2 linked regions of the Homo sapiens genome follow. The protein of the gene in region 1 purifies or fractionates together with the protein of each later gene. This does not show direct contact. Each region holds a gene or a part of one and is shown in the gene's direction. Other genes may lie near its edges.

What was found.
Region 2: the proteins of ELF4 (region 1) and NT5C2 purify together in Homo sapiens (affinity purification with mass spectrometry; one large-scale study listed by BioGRID and IntAct). This does not show direct contact.

Annotation. Positions count from the first base shown.
Region 1 is NC_000023.11:130,065,498-130,068,997, reverse strand, and holds part of ELF4 (ETS-related transcription factor Elf-4), read left to right. Parts: intron 1-1,472; coding exon 1,473-2,277; 3' UTR 2,278-3,500. UniProt on the Homo sapiens protein: Transcriptional activator that binds to DNA sequences containing the consensus 5'-WGGA-3'. Transactivates promoters of the hematopoietic growth factor genes CSF2, IL3, IL8, and of the bovine lysozyme gene.
Region 2 is NC_000010.11:103,089,906-103,092,272, reverse strand, and holds part of NT5C2 (cytosolic purine 5'-nucleotidase), read left to right. Parts: intron 1-657; coding exon 658-709; intron 710-1,276; coding exon 1,277-1,337; intron 1,338-1,485; coding exon 1,486-1,662; intron 1,663-2,050; exon of another isoform or gene 2,051-2,364; coding exon 2,365-2,367. UniProt on the Homo sapiens protein: Broad specificity cytosolic 5'-nucleotidase that catalyzes the dephosphorylation of 6-hydroxypurine nucleoside 5'-monophosphates.

The DNA of each region.
Region 1 (3,500 bases):
CCCGCCTTGGCCTCCTAAAGTGCTGGGATTACAGATGTGAGCCACCGTGCCTAGCAGGGCTCAGTTTTCAACTTCTTGCCAAGCTCTACTCTGTCGCCAGGCTCATGGGATCCTCCCAGAGCCATGGAAAAGCCAGTAGGGCACTTGTTGGTCAAGAGAGGGGAAGTCACTTGCCTGAGGTCACACATCCGGGGGCTTACACGAGAGGGGCTCCCCAGGGAGCCACCAGGGCGTCCGTGTCCTGGCCCATCCTCCTAAGCCTCCTCCATTCTAGAAAAGAAGCAACAGAGAATGTTTTAGAGCTGCCTGCTGTGAGCCCCTTGGGACCTCCAGGCCCACCCGGCTAGCTCCAACTACTTCTCATCCCCACTAAGGGGCCTCCGATTTTCCCTGAGAAGGTTGGACTTTGTTGGGTTATGTGTTTGGACCTCCCACTACACTGGCACAGTGAGACACCCTTTCGAGGAGGGCAGGCAGTCACTACGCTGGCGCAGTGAGACACCCTTTCGAGGAGGGCAGGCAGTAGAGTGGAATGGTGAGGAAGATGAGCTCTGGGATCACAAGACCTAGTTGTGAGGCCCTGCTGTAGTGCTTACTATGTATACTGGCTGTGTAATCACTAGAGCGGGGACTCACATCAAGGCCTTGTGAGACCCCAGCATCCCCACTTGGAAGAAATCAAAGGATAACATAGGTATGGCTGGTCTTGGAGCAAGTTATTAATACATAACCTCTCTGTGCCTCACTTTCCTCAAGCTGTAAAATCAGATTGTTCTTATCCCACTTGTGGGCTGTTTTCAGGATTGAGTGAAATGCCACATGTCAATCATTTAGAATGATCCCTGACCTATATACCTATTCTAAGTACTTAATAAATGTGAGCTACAGCTGAGCATGGTGGCTCACACCTGTAATCCCAGCACTTTGGGAGGCCGAGGCAGGTGGATCACCTGAGGTCAGGAGTTCAAGACCAGCCTGGCCAACATGGTGAAACTCTGTCTCTACTAAAAATACAAAATTAGCCGGGTGTAGTGGTGCTCGCCTATAATCCCAGCTACTTGGGAGGCTGAGGCAGGAGAATCACTTGAACCTCAGAGGCAGAAGTTGCAGTAAGCCAAGATTGCACTACTGCACTCCAGCCTGAGTGACAGAGCAAGACTCCGTCTCAAAAAAAAAAATAAATTAAAAATTAGCTGGGTGTGGTGGCACACACCTGTAGTCCCAGCTACTTGGGAGGCTGAGTCAGGAGGATCGCTTGAGCCCAGGGCTTCAAGGCTGCAGTGAGCAGTAATCGTGTCACTGCACTCCATCCCGGGCAGCAGAGTGAGACCCTGTCTCTAGAAAAAGAAAAAAACAACAAACAGCAAATAAATCGACAAACACCTTCAGCTCCATTCCTCTCGTGCCCTCCTTCCTAACCAGCTGAGGGACACTTCCTGCCTTAACCAACTCTGTTCTCTGTTTCTTCTCAGTGCATCTTCAGTGCCCAGCAACATCCACCTAGGAGTGGCCCCCGTGGGGTCGGGCTCGGCCCTGACCCTGCAGACGATCCCACTGACCACGGTGCTGACCAATGGGCCTCCTGCCAGTACTACTGCTCCCACTCAGCTCGTTCTCCAGAGTGTTCCAGCGGCCTCTACTTTCAAGGACACCTTCACTTTGCAGGCCTCTTTCCCCCTGAACGCCAGTTTCCAAGACAGCCAGGTGGCAGCCCCAGGGGCTCCACTGATTCTCAGTGGCCTCCCCCAACTTCTGGCTGGGGCCAACCGTCCGACCAACCCGGCGCCACCCACGGTCACAGGGGCTGGACCAGCAGGGCCCAGCTCTCAGCCCCCTGGGACTGTCATTGCTGCCTTCATCAGGACTTCTGGCACTACAGCAGCCCCTAGGGTCAAGGAGGGGCCACTGAGGTCCTCCTCCTATGTTCAGGGTATGGTGACGGGGGCCCCCATGGAGGGGCTGCTGGTTCCTGAAGAGACCCTGAGGGAGCTCCTGAGAGATCAGGCTCATCTTCAGCCACTTCCAACCCAGGTGGTTTCCAGGGGTTCCCACAATCCGAGCCTTCTGGGCAACCAGACTTTGTCTCCTCCCAGCCGCCCCACTGTTGGGCTGACCCCAGTGGCTGAACTTGAGCTCTCCTCAGGCTCAGGGTCCCTGCTGATGGCTGAGCCTAGTGTGACCACATCTGGGAGCCTTCTGACAAGATCCCCCACCCCAGCCCCTTTCTCCCCATTCAACCCTACTTCCCTCATTAAGATGGAGCCCCATGACATATAAGCAAAGGGGTCAGGGCAAGTGTGACCCACCAGGCAAAATTGAGCAGCATTTTCATAGGGACCGACTTCAGTAGCACACCTGCCCCTGCATTTCAGTGGGATGTCAATACACTTGACCCCAAGTCCCCCGGCCCTGCCTGGTGTCACTGTGGCCAAACAGTGCCCAGCTTAAGCATCCCTGGCATCAGACTATGGCCTTCAAGAGCACTAGGGCATATGCTTTTGGCAGCATAACGGGCTGACTTGGTGATGGAGGGAAAAAGCCTTGAGCCAGGCAGAAGTTTGTGGCCAGGGTTTGTGCAGCAGCTTTGTGAGAAGAGCCCTTCTACCTGGCTCTATCTCACTGGCTGCATTCCCTACACAGGGAATTTACTACCCTATATGTGAATATCCCTGTATGTACTTGTGTGTACTTGTTGGTCTGTATCTTAGTTTCTTTGGGGAGGACAGGGCTGTAGCTGTGAGGTCTTGTCTCCAAGGGTGTGTGTATGTCTCCGTGGATCAGCCACAGGGATAGGGATTTTGTTTTTAAGGGAAAGCATTCTCTAATTCCCTTTGTTCATGCCGAGATTCAGTTGCTCTGAGACTATGGGGTACAAGTTTGATCCTCCGAATCTGGAGATGTTGTAGAGCTGGAACGAGTGCAGAGTAGGAACGCTTTGATGCGCATGCACATTGGGGAAGATGCGCTCCTCAGGGACACAAAGGCCGAGTGGGGTAAAACCACGAAGGGAGGGAAGGGAAGTCAGCTCTGGGAGCAGCCCTCACTGGCTGGACCAAGGTACTCTTCCTGGAGTTTGCCGTGTTAGCAACCACAGTCACCTTGCAGTCAGGCTGGAATCTTGGGCCACCCCAAAGTGCTTTGCTGAAGGATTTAGACGGGGATGAAGTGCCCTCCAGCCTCAGAGCTAGCCACAAAGCCCCCAGAGCTGAATTCATTGAGTATTTGTGCCTAGGGCTTGGGCTGTTTGTGTGATACCGGCCCCCCGCCAGACAATAGCCTTTGCTGACACCCCAGCCTACTTCCCCGATCCTGGGCTCCCTCTTGATTACTTTTTGACATTTTCCAGCTGTCAGGCATCACTGCGGCTAGTCCGGCAGCGACCTAGATGGGGTCCACCCCCATTCCTGCTCAAGCATGGGCACCTACCACATGGTTTCTGCTGCTCAGCCTGCCTGCAACTCACCTCGAAGGCGGACCAGCCTGCCTCTGTGATGACTGCA
Region 2 (2,367 bases), on another chromosome or scaffold:
AAAATTATTTGAGTAACACTTTTCTCAATTCTCCTAAAGATGGTAGATAGAAGAAAATGTGTTACATACAGTAGATGAAGGAGGGCTTGTCTTGAGGAACCCAGACTGACAAAGGCTGCAACACACCGGCAGCATGCTGTAGATGCTGGCTGTTGCTGTTACTGTCTGTACTATCAGTGGGATTTTCTGGCTAGCCTTTCATTCACATTTTCAACTTTCTACCTATGAAGTTTTAGAAATCTAGTTGATTTGGCCCTGGACCTGTGACTCAGGAAAAGTCACCTGATTCTCAATCTTTCATCTGAAAATGGGACTGTTAACATTTGCTTAGCTGACTGCACCTGAGACAGCATGTAAATTCTGGTACTTTACAAGCTCAGAATGAGCGTGCAGCTGGAAGGGAAAGTTGTCATCATGGTGTTTAAGCAGGAGGAAAGGCAGTTAAAGAGAAGGTGATGGTGTTCATCTGTTGTCAGACTCCAAGCAGGTATCAGTGAGTTATCCTGAAGAGGGGAAGAGGAGGTAACTGTACACTCAGCATGTTAGTCCCAGGTTCTACTTTCCAGTCACATCTGCAACCTTTTAGTTTAGCAGCAGTTAAGAACTAGGTGCTTATTTATTTAAAATGTCTTCCTTTTCCTTCCAAACCTTAACTAGCACTTTTCGAAGAACTTCAGAGCTTGGATATTTTCTTGGCTGAACTCTACAAGTAAGTTTTCTAAAAATTTCTTTCCCAAAAACTTACTCAGGAATCACTTAGATATAAGAAATGTTCTTTCCAGGCCAGTAATCCCAGCTATTTGGGAGGCTGAGGCAGGAGAATCGTTTGAACCGGGGAAATGGAGGTTGCAGTGAGCTGAGATTGCACCATTGCACTCCAGCCTGGGCGACAAGAGTGAAACTCCGTCTCAAAAAAAAAAAAAGTTCTTTCCAGGCCAGGCGCAGTGGCTCATGCCTGTAATCCCAGCACTTTGGGAGGCCAAGGCAGGCGGGTTGCTTGAGGCCAGAAGTTTGAGACCAGCCTGACCAACATGGCAAACGAAACCCCATCTCTACCAGAAATACAAAAAGTAGCTGAGTGTGGTGGCACATGCCTGTAATCCCAGCTAATTAGGGTGGCTGAGGCAGGAGAATCGCTTGAAGCTGGGAGGCAGAGGTTGCAGTGAGCCGCGATCACACCCCTGCACTCCAGCCTGAGTGACAGAATGAGACTGTCTTAAAGAATAAAAAAAAGCTCTTCCCAGAGATTTTCACTGAGTTTTTCTTTTATCTTTAGGCATCTTGACAGCAGTAGCAATGAGCGTCCAGACATCAGTTCCATCCAGAGACGTATTAAGGTATCCAAATGGGATTTGGGAGAAAACTTGGGAAATAAGTTTAAATGCTTTTTTCACATTCCTGATTTATTATAGAGACTAGCATTCAACTACTGCTCAATAAATATTTGTTGAATGAGCCAAGAATCAATCTTGTTCTTTGTTTTAGAAAGTAACTCATGACATGGACATGTGCTATGGGATGATGGGAAGCCTGTTTCGCAGTGGCTCCCGGCAGACCCTTTTTGCCAGTCAAGTGATGCGTTATGCTGACCTCTATGCAGCATCTTTCATCAACCTGCTGTATTACCCTTTCAGCTACCTCTTCAGGGCTGCCCATGTCTTGGTGAGTTAAAGCTGTAATGGACAGCCAAGATGTACTCTAAGCCCAGGGTCAGCAACCACCTTTGTGAGATGGCACAGGAGATAGTTTGAACATTTCTTTCTGATGTACAGAGCCCAGGGGCAGGTTATATGGTTGCATAAGAAGGGGTCTTTGAGAAAGTAGAACCAACATTGGAAGTTAAGAGTGTAACTTTACTCTCTGAAGTCTACTCTATTAAAAGCTGTATGTGGGCCAGGCATGGTGGCTCATGCCTGTAACCCCAGAACTTTAGAGGCTGAGGTGGGAGGATTGATTGAGCCCAGGAAGTCGAGGCTGCAGTGGGCTGTGATTGCTCCACTGTACTCCAGCCTGGGTGACAGCGAGAGACCATCTCAAGAAAAAGAAAATGTGGTTTTTACATTCCTTTATTCTGATCTGTTTCAGGACTATCTTGTTTTTGCTGTAAAATAGAAAGTAAACTCCCCTCTCCATCTTTTCCAATTTCCAGCTGCAGTAGACAATATGGGCACCATTTTGAGGGGCAGGGAGAGAGGAAGACAGGCAACTATAAGTAGTTCTATGAAGATAAGTCTATATTGACTTGTCCTGTGGTCCATTATAGATGTAATTGCATGGCCACCTAACAGAGGAGAGGGGTTAGGATTTGGGGAGTAGCTACTTTGCTCTGCCTGCTTTCTGAGCCTCTAGCTTTTTTCTGTCTAGATG